Regions from separate parts of the Homo sapiens genome. Here all the other regions are linked to region 3. The links come from fine-mapping of genetic effects on gene expression. A gene starts in region 3. Each other region holds a variant in brackets. All regions are shown on one strand. Distances are from middle to middle.

Evidence for each region.
Region 1: its variant is fine-mapped to the expression of PICK1 in T cells (TOPMed, PIP above 0.99). The same link has a PIP of 0.9 or more in blood mononuclear cells and whole blood.
Region 2: its variant is fine-mapped to the expression of PICK1 in spleen (GTEx, PIP 0.96).

What each region holds. Positions count from the first base shown.
Region 1 is chr22:38,076,149-38,078,989 of GRCh38, reverse strand. It overlaps SLC16A8 (solute carrier family 16 member 8), which reads left to right. Exons shown (of 6, transcript NM_013356.3): 6 at 286-853. The coding sequence ends at 602. LOC105373027 (a long non-coding RNA gene) reads right to left here and starts at 349. Exons shown (of 3, transcript XR_938249.3): 1 at 257-349; 2 at 43-136. The variant C/T (reference allele first, on the strand shown) is at 1,291.
Region 2 is chr22:37,409,593-37,412,433 of GRCh38, reverse strand. All of the region lies in intron 2 of ELFN2 (extracellular leucine rich repeat and fibronectin type III domain containing 2), which reads left to right. Among named protein-coding and RNA genes, the nearest start is that of ELFN2, 16 kb to the left of the region's middle. RefSeq lists an enhancer at 1,383-1,884. The variant C/T (reference allele first, on the strand shown) is at 1,690.
Region 3 is chr22:38,056,163-38,058,662 of GRCh38, reverse strand. PICK1 (protein interacting with PRKCA 1) reads right to left here and starts at 1,259. Exons shown (of 13, transcript NM_012407.4): 1 at 1,076-1,259; 2 at 813-910. The coding sequence starts at 853. RefSeq lists enhancers at 558-1,181, 1,426-1,485, 1,182-1,807.

The DNA of each region.
Region 1 (2,841 bases), 20 kb before region 3:
CACTTGTGGGGCTTGAATCAGAGGGTGGAGGGGACGCCTCACCAGAAGCCACATATCACTTAAGCAATTGAGGTCCAGGGACAGCAAGTGACATTTTTAAGGTTTCAAATGGCAGAATCCACATGAGGTTTTACATCTGTAAAACAGGAATAAAGAGTGGGCATGTGTGTGTCACCCAGGAGCCTCACCAAGTCAGTGGCACCACCCTTGACCTGAGAGTGCAGGAGAGTGAGGGGAGGACCCCACAGGACCTTACCTCTCCCTCCTCTTCCTCCTCCTCCCCAGGCCGCCTGGTGGATGTGTTGAAGAACTATGAGATCATCTTCTACCTGGCCGGCTCTGAGGTGGCCCTGGCTGGGGTCTTCATGGCTGTCGCCACCAACTGCTGCCTGCGTTGTGCTAAAGCTGCCCCGTCAGGCCCAGGCACTGAGGGCGGAGCCAGTGACACTGAGGACGCTGAGGCTGAAGGGGACTCTGAGCCCCTGCCTGTTGTTGCAGAGGAACCCGGCAACCTGGAGGCCCTGGAGGTGCTCAGCGCCCGGGGCGAGCCCACAGAACCAGAAATAGAGGCGAGGCCGAGGCTGGCTGCCGAGTCTGTATAACTCAGGGTGCTCTGGGTGGGGTGGCCCAGTGACTTGGGAACACAGCTTCTTGTCTCAGAGAGCCTGGTACGCTGGGAGGCTGGTCTGGGGTGGTCACTCCCGGGGTCCACGTCTGGGCTCCAGTTGATCCCCTGGGTGTCTGGGAACTGCCTCCCTCATCTGTGCCCCAAGTTCCGCCAGGCCCTGCCCCATCGCCAGTGAAGCTGCTATGGAGCAACAGGAAACTGGTGATAAAGCTCAGCTGAACGACAGAAGGTTCTATTCCTCCGCCCAGGCTCCGGCTGCCACCTGAGTTGGGGGTCAGGGTGGTGGGAGGGAGTCTGGGAGGTCTCTCTCCAGGCCCCCTAAGCAGGCTTCTAGGTGGGCAGTGTTGGGAGGAAGCGTCAGAGATGGATGAAGAGACCCATCGTTCCCAGGTGTAGAGACACAAGGGGCTGGGCGGGCACAGGGCTCAGGGGCACAGGGCTGGGTGGGCACAGTGCCTGGCTCCTGCCCAGCCCCACTGCTCAGAGCTGTCTGCTGAAGGCCCCCTCGCTGGCATCTGCCTTTTCCCGTGGAGGGAACGAGGGGTTGGCAGCAACTAGGGTTCAAGGTTGGGGTCTGCCTGCAGGCGGGGGGCCCGAGCGGTCTGAGAAGACTCACAGTTCCCAGGGTCAGGGTCGGTTTGAATCCCAGCCCCGCTGACTTC[C/T]TTGCTCACTGGAGGCTGAGCATACGACTCCGTCCCCTGGGGTCCTGGGGAGGGTGGGACCAGGCGCTCAGTAACACCATGGGCCCTGCTGCCTTCCACGAGGTGGCCATGTCCCCTCACCTTCCCAGAGGGCATCTCTCCCACTAGAGGATAAACTTGGGTGTCCAGGGCCAGGGGCTTTTGCTGTGGACACTGTGCTGGCAGCCAGGTCATCTGCTGATCCCAGCACCTGCCTTCTCCCCACGGAGCGTCCCACGATCTCCCTCACACTTTGACATCTGACCTCCTGCACTTGGATCCAGGTGCACGAATCTGGCAAGACGCGATGTATTCCCTCTATGCATTTATCCTCCTCCCATACATCACACCCCTCCTTTCTTTGCCTCCCTCCGAATCATGAGCGTGGTGAACAGGCCCCTGCAGAGGAAGCCGCCTTCCCTCCGCAAACTCCCCTCACCTTCCAGCCCGGCCCATAGTGACCCCTCCCCACTGGTCCCTGCTGGCCCTCATTTTCCATCTAGGCCCCAGGAAGGTCTGGGGAGCCCCACAGATGCCTGGCCGGCTTCTACTTATATGGCCTGTGGCTTCCCCTGCACCACTAGAGCAGTGACTGCGTTTGACTTTATTATTATTATTTTTTATTTATTTTTTTGAAATGGAGTCTCGCTCTGTTGCCCAGGCTGGAGTGCAGTGGCACAATCTCGGCTCACTGCAAGCTCTGCCTCCCAGGTTCACACCATTCTCCTGTCTCAGCCTCCCCAGCAGCTGGGACTACAGGCCCCCGCCACCACGCCTGGCTAATTTTTTGTATTTTTAGTGGAGACGAGGTTTCACCGTGTTAGCCAGGATGGTCTCGATCTCCTGACCTCGTGATCCGCCCGCCTTGGCCTCCCAAAGTGCTGGGATTACAGGCGTGAGCCACCGCTCCCGGCCCGTCTGACTTTATTTAAGATTTAAGAGTGCTTGCTCTGTGCCAAGCCCTGTTCTAAGCCCTCTCCAGATGTTCATTTAATCTCCTAACAAGCCAATAAGGTAGGTGCCACACTTCAGATAGGGAAATTGAGGCCCAGGGAGGTCAGGAACGAACCCAGGCTGTCAGTTCCAGCCTGTGCTCTTGGCCTCCACTCTGGCTGCCCCCTTCAGGGAGGCAGTGTGGTCTGTCTGATGGCTCTGCGGGGACCCAGGTGGGCTCCTGGTGACAGCCAGCCCCTCCTCCATGTCCCACCCCTGCCAAGCCTCCCATTTGGGTTTCTGCCCAGCAATGCATGCTCAAAGCTGATGCAGAAACCCTTTTTCCATCCTGGACTCAGCCCACCTCGCACACCCTGTTGCCCCCTCGCATTCTCAGGATGGCCATATTCATCGTCCAAACAGGAACACGTTAGAGTGACAAGGGCCACTATGACTGATTACACCAGGCCGAGGCTGGCCAGGAGAAGCAGGAGAAGTGGCCACCCTGTTTCTGCCACTCTGCAGACACTCCCCATGGCCTCTCCCCACGCCCCTCTTCCCACAGCCCCCGAGCACCTCTCCCCACACGCCTTTCCCCAC
Region 2 (2,841 bases), 650 kb after region 3:
AGTCTTTGGGAAGGGGAGTGAGTGCCCTGTCTGAGGGAGATAGAGCCTCAATTCCCAGGAGCCCCAGTCTGAGGGTGGAGGCACTGTGGGTGTGCTGGCCTCAGTTTGCTTTCTTTCTTTTTTCCTTTTCTTTCTTTCTTTTTTTTTTTTTTTTTTGAGACGGAGTTTTGCTTGTTTGCCCAGGCTGGAGAGAAAGCTGAGATTACAGGCGACTGCCACAATGCCCAGAAAATTTTTGTATTTTTATTTTTAGTAGAGACCAGGTTTCGCCATGTTGACCAGGCTGGTCTCGAACTCCTGACCTCAAGTGATACACCTGCCTCGGCCTCCCAAAATGCTGGGATTACAGGCCTGAGTGTACAGACTGAGGCGCCCAACCTCAGTCTGCTTTCTGAATGTCGGAGGAGAGATGGTCCTCTGAGCGGAGGTTCCAAGAGCTCTGGGAAGACTTTTTTTTTGGAAGAGGCAGTCCCTGAGGGCTGGGAGTGGTTGGATTGGGGCAGGGGCTGCAGGAAGGCCTGTTTGGTGGTGGGAAGTGAGACCTTGTGAGTTAGATCCCACGCCTGAGTGGTCACATGTCCTGGTCTCAGTTTTCTTATCTGTGAAATGGGGATACTGCCAGGCTCCTGGAGGGGATGGAGTGAAATAGGATTGGAGATAGGAGTATCTGCACACAGTAGGCCCACAGGGTTGCCAGGGGCTGCGTGAGAAGCTAGAAGCTACTGAGAACCCATAGCCCCATCCCTGTCTCCACACTGGGTCACAGCTCAACCCACCCAGCATAGGAGGTAGGGTGCCCTCTGTGCCAAGCTGGGAGGCAGAGATGAAGGGCTATGTTGCCCTTCCTGCCTCCGCTTGCTGTGTGAGTCTTGCTTGTCCTACACTCCCTCTGGACCTCAGGCAAAGGACAGCCCCTGTCCCAGAGGACATTGTCTGAGGTCTGTGGGGGCACACAGACCTTCTCCGCTTCCCCTCCTCACCCAGGGCTGGGACTCAAGGATGGAGGTGGGGGCTCTCCAGGGACCCCCAAGCATCATCCTGGGAAGAGACCGGCTACAGAGAGGGGTTGGCACTGAGGTGCCCCAATGGTGGTGGCTCAAGGGCCCTTGATCTAAGCAGCGCTTCTGGGGTGAGGCCTTTGCTGCCCCGCTAGACACTCCTTGGCTTGGTGGTCGCAGGTCAGAGTGGAAAAACTCCCAGGCTACAGGATGGGGCGATGCAGTGATCAGGCCCATGGGCCCAGCTGTCAGTTCCCAATTCTACCCATGACAAGTTGCCCCGCCTGTGTGTGCCTCAGTGTCCTCACCTGTCAAGTAGGAATAAAAGTAGTGCCCACCACCCAAGGGTGACACTATGAAGCACTTGGTGCTACGCCTGGCGTGCAGTCAGGAATGCTAGCACTGGGCTTCTTGCTGGCTTTCCTGGTGGTCGGAGCAGGGAGGCAGGCTTCAGGGGCCCTTCTAGAGTCACCTCTGAGGCTGCTGGAGACAGGCTGGGGCCTGTGGAGTCCCGGTTCTGGGTGCTAGGTCAGGAAATGTGGGGGTGTCTGCCCCTGTGGCCCCTCCTACTGCCTGCCGAACAGGATGTCGTGGAAGGAGCCGATGGGCTTTGGAGTAGACGCGTGGGTTCCATCCCAGCTCATTCATATTCATCCCCCGCTGGCCGTGGGGCTCCGGCCCGATCATCCTC[C/T]GCTCCTCGGTTGCTTCGTGTGGTAGAATGGGATCAGGGCTGTGATGGGGATTAGGTGAGATGAGGCAGGAAGACAGCAGTATCCACGCCTGCGGTTTCCGGTCAGTGCCCGGCTCGTCCCTCTCCAATTTGATGCTGGGGCTGATGGCAGGGGAGGGAGGGGCTTTGGGAGTGAGTTCCTGGCTGGGCTGAGATGGCAGCTGACCTGGACGCTGCCCTCAGCACCATCTGGGGAGAGGGGAAGCGGGGGCTCAACAGGGAACCAGGACCCCGGAGTGCTGGAGGGTCGGAGCCAGCAGGTCTCCCACCCACTGCCCGCACTCGTGGGCAGGCTGCAGCCCAGAGAGGTGAGGCGCTGGCTCGGGGCCACACCGCAGTGAGTGGCCAGGCTGAGGGTGGAGACTTGCCGGCTTTCCTCTTGGGCACTTTCACTTCCCGCAGCCCCTGGACCAGCCTAAAGTGGCTGCTCTGAGCAGGATCACCCTAGGGCCTGAGCTGAGCTCATTCGTTCTGTTTCTCTCTCTCTCCCTGTCTCTTTGTCTCTGTCTGCCCACCCATCTCTCTGGCCCTGCCCCGTCTGTTTGCCGCAACCGCCTGTCTCTCAGGCCGCAGGAGAGAGCTGGCTGGATGGAAGCTGGGCACACAAGGGCAGGTGTGTGTGTATGTGTGTGCCCTCGTGATCTTTGTGCATTTGCTGGGTTTTGGAGCATGTATGTGTAAAACAATGCATAAGTATACAAACCCCCTTATACCTGGGGAACTGGCACATGCTCTCGGCGTGCACAGCAGAAAGGAATGGGCCACTGCCTGTTCCCAAGGCCTCCTCCCCAGAGGCTGTCACTGACCCGTGTTTCCTGGTACCTACAAACACACGTACACCATCTGTTCTTACCCAGGAGGGATTCTCCTCGCAGCTGGCCCTGCACCCTCCTGCGGCCCCTGATTGCACCCTGAGCACCCTTCTCAGGGGTGCGGCGGGACCTGGGTCCTAATCCACTTTGGAATGGGCTTTTCTTGAAAGGACATTTCCCTGTTGTGAGTGCCTGGGCTGTTTGCACTTTTTCTACTTTCACCCACTTCAGATCTGAAGTGTCTGACTGCAGAATCAAGCTCCTCTGACCCGGCACGCTGCCCTGGGGCACGGGTGGGCTG
Region 3 (2,500 bases):
GGATGAGCACCCTTATCAGAGTTCTTCTAACCATGCATGGAGGGCACTAACAGCAACCCAGTCCATAGCAGGCACTCCATAAAAATAGGTCCCCCTTCCCTTTCATTTATTCGATCTCTGAGATTTGAGCCAGGTTCTGTCCTTGTCACCTTATCAGGCATCTATGTAGTATGATGGCCACCTACTCCAGGGAGTCTTCCTCTATTAAACTGTCCACCTCCCACCTCTCAACTGCTCGATTACCTCTCGGTTTCCACTATAAATTAGCATTGACTGGTGTTTTATGATAAGTACTCACGCTGATTCACTTATTCATTCAAAAAACATTCGCTAACAACCTACTGACGTCAAGTCCCTTACTAAGTGCTGAGCATAGAGAAAGGCATTGCACCCACTCCTTGATCTGAAAGAGGATATATTCTAATGGGAAAATCTGTCCTACTAACAACCTATGTTGGGAAGGAAGGGTGTCTACAATATTCCTATTCAACCTTCAAAACCTGGTTCAATTGCTACGTCCTCCATGAAGCTTTCCTTGACCATCCCAGCAGAAGCACTGCTCCATCTGCTTTGCTCTTCTTGTCACCAAGTCATGCTAATAGTGCCCTTATGGCACTGAGCTGTGATTATCCCTTTAACTGTCCACAGCCCCCTACAAATAGTGAGCTCCTGGGAGAGCAGGGTCCATTGCTGCTTCAGTACAACAACTGATCCACCGCTGAGAAGCAAGGGTCTGTGGGACTGGGAAGTCCAGGGAAATGAGGAACTTGGGGCTCCTATACTGCTGGAACTTGGGGGAATAAAATACTCACAGTTTATCCTCTTCGATGTCATAATCCAAGTCTGCAAACATGGTTCCGAGAGTTGGAGTGGGCTGGCTAACTGCCCAGCTCGGTAGGGGAATGGGGAACTGGATCCGGGAGAGAAAGGAGCATAGGATTTAAGGAACCCAAGTGCCTAAATGCCAACGCCACCCCTCCCTCCACCACCTCATACGGGACAGCAGTGCCCTCCTCTTCCCTCTGGAGTGGGATGGGACAGTCTCCGGGTGGGGGGCTGGGTAGGTGATTCTTACTAGGTACAAAGGGGGGCTCCAGGCCAGGGCGATAGGCTCAGATCCCAGAGTCCGCCCCACGGGTCTCCAGGCCCTGGGGAGCTGCCTCTGTCGCTCACCGGAAGCGTTGGTCCCACAGCCGGGTCCCGGCCAGGCTGGTACCTGAACCCACCTGCCGTTCCACCTGGCGGTGGCCGCGATTGTCACGTCACTTCCGGCAAGACGCGGAAGTCCCGGCTTTCCCCCCACTGGATATTTGCTCCAATCCCTGCAGACAATCCTTCCCTTCCCGGCTCCCGGGACGCTCGGAACCAAGAACGAGAACAAGTATTGGCGGAAGCTCGCTGTTAGTAGGAACAAGCGAAAACAGAGGAACGGTCTGGACAGGCTGACAGCGTCTAACCCCGCCCTTTGCCCTGCCGCCGCCGCCATCTTGGGAAGGGCAGGGTTTGTCCCAGCTTCCTCAGCTGCACTCAGGGGCCCGCGCCGGCCCGGCGGTTGCCATGGCAACGAAAGCATCCCTGAGCCGGGGTTACCTCCGGCGAGGCTCAGTGGACTATAAACCCCAAGACATCATGCCCTTTCACCCCTTCACCACCTGGGCCTGTGACTCCCCTACTAGAATGGCCCTTTGAGGTCCCAGCCCATCCCAGTTTCGCCAACTTAAGTGCCAAAGAGCGGGGAGTGATTTTGTGCGGGGCCACACACAGTTGGTGTAAGATCTGGATCGTGGCCCTGAAACTCCCGCCGCCTAGTCTAGGGATCTTTGAACGTCCAAACACTAAACAGAGAGCCAGGAGAGGTGTATTCAGTGGGTCTTGCTATTAAGGACAGACTGGACATGCTCCCTTCCCTTTATGTGCCTCAGTTTCCCCATATGTAAACCAAGGCCATTGAGGTAAATGCTTTCTATGGTATATGGTGAAAGGTTTCTCACACCCCCTCCTCCTTCCTTAGTCCTGAGGAGCAGCCCCCCTGGGGTCCCAGGGAGGGTCACGGTCCGCATGTACCTGAGGCTCGGGAAATGCTATCAGTGCTCCCCAGAGTCCGAATCTTGTCTCCTCGCCAGCCTCTGCTGCCACTGCTATTGTGTAAAGTGGGTTCCCTGGGGGAGGTTGGCTCTCCCAGAGCCACAGCCAGGCATCCACCTCATCCGGCAGCATGGGGCCAGGCCCATCCAGCTTGCTTCCCCAGCTGCCCCAGGAGCCATGGAAGAAAGATACAGAAGGATGATTATCCACATATCCCACGGCCGGTGGAAGCCCCGCCCTACTCTCTCCTTAGGTGGCTAATTGAGTCCGGACAGATGTGCAGAATGCCGTGACAATAACAGCCTTCCCACGTGTCCACTGCTCTCCTGTGAGATCACTTTCACAGGATTTGAAAGCTCACCACCACCCTGTGAGAGAAGACCAAATCTTGCCAGCCACATTGTGCAGGCAAGGA